Regions from separate parts of the Homo sapiens genome. Here region 2 is linked to region 1. Evidence: fine-mapped expression QTL. A gene starts in region 1. The other region holds a variant in brackets. All regions are shown on one strand. Distances are between the middles of the regions. Region 1 holds the start of HUWE1 (HECT, UBA and WWE domain containing E3 ubiquitin protein ligase 1). Region 2 has its middle 22 kb from the start of XAGE3.

The links. PIP is the estimated chance that this variant, and not a neighbour inherited with it, causes the effect.
Region 2: its variant is the best candidate, but not a certain one, in a credible set for the expression of HUWE1 in tibial artery (GTEx, PIP 0.84).

The regions. Positions count from the first base shown.
Region 1 is chrX:53,685,068-53,687,888 of GRCh38, reverse strand. HUWE1 (HECT, UBA and WWE domain containing E3 ubiquitin protein ligase 1) reads left to right here and starts at 1,170. Exons shown (of 84, transcript NM_031407.7): 1 at 1,170-1,301; 2 at 1,521-1,619. RefSeq lists silencers at 989-1,163, 1,237-1,536 and an enhancer at 1,747-1,826.
Region 2 is chrX:52,844,617-52,847,437 of GRCh38, reverse strand. No RefSeq gene overlaps it. Among named protein-coding and RNA genes, the nearest start is that of XAGE3, 22 kb to the left of the region's middle. The variant T/C (reference allele first, on the strand shown) is at 1,527.

The DNA.
Region 1 (2,821 bases):
AATCCCAGCGCTTTGGGAGGCCGAGGCGGGTGAACTGCTTGAGCCTAAGAGTTTGAGACCAGCCTGGCAACATAGTGAGACCCCGCCTCTACAAAAAATAAAAAGTTATCCAGGCGTGGTGGCGCATACCTGGAGGCCCAGCTACTTGGGAGACTGTAGGCAGGCAGGAGGATCCTTGAGCCCAGGAGGTCGAGGCTGCAGTGAGTCGTGACCGTGCCACTGCACTTCACCCTGGGTGACAGAGTGATGCTTTGTCTCAAAAAAAAAAAATTGTAAAAATATTCAATGAAACAGTGTATCTCGAAGGGGCCCTGTACATCTCCTGAGATCATATACAAAATTTTATGTGTAAGTATATATTGGGGTGGGGGACCCATTCATTAGATTCTCAATTCGAGGGATGAACCACTGCTCTGGAGGGCTGGAATTAGAGAAGTGGAGGGTATAATCACAGTTTTTATTTCCTCGATGTCTCAGGAGTTCTTTTAATAGTGCTTTTGTCTTTAAATACTAAATTAATACATACTTTTTATTAAAAATTGAAACCTTATCGAAGTAGCTAGAGTTCCAAGTCAAAGTTCTTCGCCCCTCCAATGTCGTCCGCAGCCCACAATAATTAAGTAGGGTTAACAGGTGATCTCCCACCAGGTCCTTTTTATTCCCATGTATTTACAGATGCAGATCCTCTACAGGATCCTTGTCAATCGCACTGCCGTTCCAAATAATTAAAGGAGGAAAAAAGAATGTTTATTGAGGGCTTACTATGTGCCTGAAGTGTTTTAAGGGTTTGCTCGCGTGAACTCTGGGTGGTCGGCTTCCCACGTCGTCTCCCACCCTCCGCTCTGGGTCCAGCCTTGCCCTCTTGCCCCACACTCCCCATTCTTCACAAGGCATCTGGCGAGGTCGTTAATTTTTAAAGGTAAATCAGATCAAATCATGTTCCCTTCCGCGGCTTCCACCGTGCCTCGAATCAAATCCCAATTCTTAGCGACCCTATCATCCTCTATGGTTGCATTTACTGGGCCTTGGGTAGCTCAGGCGCGGTCCCCTGCAAGGGACCCGACTTCACCGCGGAGGGAGCTCCCTCCCGAGGGGCAGGGGCGGGGCTTCGCTTGCGGTGGGTGGAGCCCCAAATCGAGTTTGAGCTGAGCCGAAGCGAGGAGGCTTTCGACTGAGGGCTAGCGAGGGGAGCAGGGCTGGAGCAGGGCTGGAGCAGGGCTGGAGCAGGGCTGAAGCAGGGCTGAAGCAGGGCCGCGGACCCCGCACGCTCCTGCGGGCCCCGCGGAGCCATTGCGGCCGAGGTGAGCGTCTATCCCTGGGCTGGAGGGCGAGCTCTGTACGCGCGGCCGTTCTCGGTTTCTCGCGGGTGGCAGTGGCGAGGTTGGGGGGGGAGTTCCCACGGGACCCTGCGCGGAGGCGCGGAGGTGGCGGCCTTGGGGAGCCTGCGGGAAAGGCTGCTGGAGGGGCAGGGCGGCCTGCCCCAACCCTCCCTGAACCCCGCCTCCTCTCCCCTCCCCCAGGCCTCGGCAGGCGCCAGCGGAGAGCTAGCCGCATCTTCGGGGGCAGCCCGGCAGCTGCCGGCGGCGCGGCGAGAGAGCGGCTGACAGAGGGGATGCGAGGTACCGGCATTAGCCATGGCCAAGTGGCCCTAAAGAGAGAGTAGAGGCCGGGCCTTCAGCGTTTCTCACTGGTTCGAGGAAGGCGGCCTCAGAGGAGAGGGAAGGTGAGGGGCGGGCAGGCAGGCTTCGCGGGTAACTACTAGGCGTTGCATATATATGTTTTGATATCTAAATGGTACTACACACACACACACATTCATTTCGACTAACTGCTTGTTTAAAAATCTGAGAATATGTCTTGTAGATCTTCTTATATCCGGGAATCCAAATTTATGTTGGGTTTTAAACAGCTGCATTGTATGATTGTACTACAGTTTATTTAACCATTTCCCGATTGATATACATTAGCTTGTTTCTCTGTTGGGGGAGGGAGGGGACTATTACAAGCAATGCCATAATGAATGGGTTTGTGTATATGTATCATGCCATGTATGAGTATTTCTGTAGGAGAAATTCTTAGAAGAGTAACCGCTGGGTCAGGGTGTATATGCATTTTGAATTTTGATAGATTTGTCCAAATTGCCTTCCCAAAAGCCTGTACTAATTTACACTCTTTAATGTTGTGCGAGAGTGCCTATTTTTCCACAGTTATGCCAACACGTATTATCAATCTTTGTAATTTTAGCCAATTTAAAGGGCAAAAAAATCGTATGTCATTGTTTTCATTTGCATTTCCCTGATTACTGGCGAAATTGATCATATTTTTGTTTGTAAATAGGCAAATATCAATAGTTTATATAGGCAGTTTTCCTATCTATAAGCAATAAGCATTTTGAAATTTTAATAATAAAAAACCTGTTCGCAATAGCAAGAGAAACGAATAAAAATACCTAGAAGTAAACTATAAAACTTTATTGACGAATACCATAAAAGAACATCTGCATGAAAAGAGAAGGAATACTATGCTTCTGAATAAGAAGGCTCAATATTTTAGTGATGTCCATTTTTCCTATATTGGTTTATACAGTTGATGCAATTTCAATAAATATACCAAGTTTTTTTGGAACTTACTATGATTCTAAAGTTCATCCGGGGGAAAAAAATGGCTAAGAATAACTGAAAAAAAATATTTTAAAACGTAAGTAAAGATAGGGATATTTGTACTACTGGCTATTAAAATGTACTCTAAAGGAACTATTTAAATTAGAACGGACAGAACAATGCATTAGAATGGAAAAGCCCACAAATCAAGCCAGATTGGA
Region 2 (2,821 bases), 840 kb after region 1:
CATCTCACGTGCAGAGACACACACATAGGCTCAAAATAAAGGGATGGAGGAAGATCTACCAAGCAAATGGAAAGCAAAAAAACAAAAAAACAAAACAAAACAAACAACAAACAAACAAACAAAAAACAGGGGTTGCAATCCTAGTCTCTGATAAAACAGACTTTAAACCAACACAGATCAAAAGAGATAAAGAAGGCTATTACATAATGGTAAAGGGATCAATTCAACAAGAAGAGCTAACTATCCTAAATATACATGCATCCAATACAGGAGCACCCAGATTCATAAAGCAAGCCCTTAGAGACCTGCAAAGACACTTAGACTCCCACACAATGATAATGGAAGACTTTAACACCCCACTGTCAACATTAGACAGATCAACGAGACAGAAGGTTAACAAGGATATCCAGGAACTGAACTCAGCTCTGCAACAAGCAGACCTAATAGACATCTACAGAACTCTTCACCCCAAATCAACAGAATGTACATTCTTCTCAGCACCACATCGCACTTATTCCAAAATTGACCACATAGGTGGAAGTGAAGCACTCCTCAGCAAATGCAAAAGAACAGAAATGATAACAAACTGTCTGTCAGACCACAGTGCAATGAAATTAGAACTCAGGATTATGAAACTCACTCAAAACCACACAACTACATGGAAACTGAACAACTTACTCCTGAATGACTACGGGGTAAATAACGAAATGAAGGCAGAAATAAAGATGTTCTTTGAAACCAATGAGAACAAAGACACAACATACCAGAATCTCTGGGACACATTTAAAGCAGTGTGTAGAGGGAAAAGTACAGCACTAAATGCCCACAAGTGAAAGCAGAAAAGATCTAAAATTGACACCCTAACATCACAATTAAAAGAACTAGAGAAGCAAGAGCAAACACATTCAAAAGCTAGCCGAAGGCAAGAAATAACAAGATCAAAGCAGAACTGAAGGAGATAGAGACGCAAAAAACCCTTCAAAAAATCTGTGAATCCAGGAGCTGGTTTTTTTTTTAAAGATCAACAAAATCGATAGACTGCTAGCAAGACTAATAAAGAAGAAAAGAGAGAAGAATCAAATAGACGCAATAAAAAATGATAAAGGGGATATCACCACCAATCCCACAGAAATACAAACTACCATCAGAGAATACTATAAACACCTCTATGCTTATTTGCATAGAAAATCTAGAAGAAACGGATAAATTCCTGGACACATACACCCTCCCAAGACTAAACCAGGAAGAAGTTGAATCTCTGAATAGACCAATAACAGACTCTGAAATTGAGGCAATAATTAATAGCTTACCAACCAAGAAAAGTTCAGGACCAGATGGATTCACAGCTGAATTCTACCAGAGGTACAAGGAGGAGCTGGTACCATTCCTTCTGAAACTACTCTAATCAATAGAAAAAGAGAGAATCCTCCCTAACTCATTTTATGAGTCCAGCATCATCCTGATAACAAAGCCTGGCAGAGACACAACAAAAAAAGAGAATTTTAGACCAATATCCCTGATGAACA[T/C]CGATGCAAAAGTCCTCAATAAAATACTGGCAAACCGAATCCAGCAGCACATCAAAAAGCTTATCCACCATGATCAAGTGGGCTTCATCCCTGGGATGCAAGGCTGGTTCAACATACACAAATCAATAAACGTAATCCAGCATATAAACAGAACCAAGGACAAAAACCACATGATTATCTCAGTAGATGTAGAAAAGGCCTTTGACAAAATTCAGCAGCCCTTCATGCTAAAAACTCTCAATAAATTAGGTATTGATGGGACATATCTCAAAACAATAAGAGCTATTTATGACAAACCCACAGCCAATATCATACTGAATGGGCAAAAGCTGGAAGCATTTTCTTTGAAAACTGGCACAAGAGAGGGATGCCCTCTCTCACCACTCCTATTCAACATAGTGTTGGAAGTTCTGGCCAGGGCAATCAGGCAGGAGAAAGAAATAAAGGGTATTCAATTAGGAAAAGAGGAAGTCAAATTGTCCCTGTTTACAGATGACATAATTGTATATCTAGAAAACCCCATCATCTCAGCCCAAAATCTCCTTAAGCTGGTAAGCAACTTCAGCAAAGTCTCAGGATATAAAATCAATGTGCAAAAATCACAAGCATTCTTACACACCAATAACAGACAAACAGAGAGCCAAATCATGAGTGAACTCCCATTCACAATTGCTACAAAGAGAATAAAATATCTAGGAATCCAACTTACAAGGGATGTGAAGGACCTCTTCAAGGGGAGCTACAAACCACTGCTCAACGAAGTAAAAAAGGACACAAACAAATAGAAGCACATTCCATGCTCATGGATAGGAAGAATCAATATTGTGAAAATGGCCATACTGCCCAAGGCAATTTTTAGATTCAATGCCATCCCCATCAAGCTCCCAATGACTTCCTTCACAGAATTGGAAGAAACTACTTTAAAGTTCATATGGAACCAAAAAAGAGCCTGCCTTGCCAAGACAATCCTAAGGAGAAGGAACAAAGCTGGAGAAATCAGGCTACCTGACTTCAAACTATGCTACAAGGATAAAGTAACCAAAACAGTATGGTACTGGTACCAAAACAGAGATATAGACCAATGAAACAGAACAGAGCCCTTAGTAATAACACTACACATCCACAACTATCTGATCTTTGACAAACCTGACAAAAACAAGCAATGGGGAAAGGATTCCCTATTTAATAAATGGTGCTGGGAAAACTGGTTAGCCATATGTAGAAAGCTGAGACTGGATCCCTTCCTTACACCTTATACAGAAATTAATTCAAGCTGGATTAAACACTTAAATTGT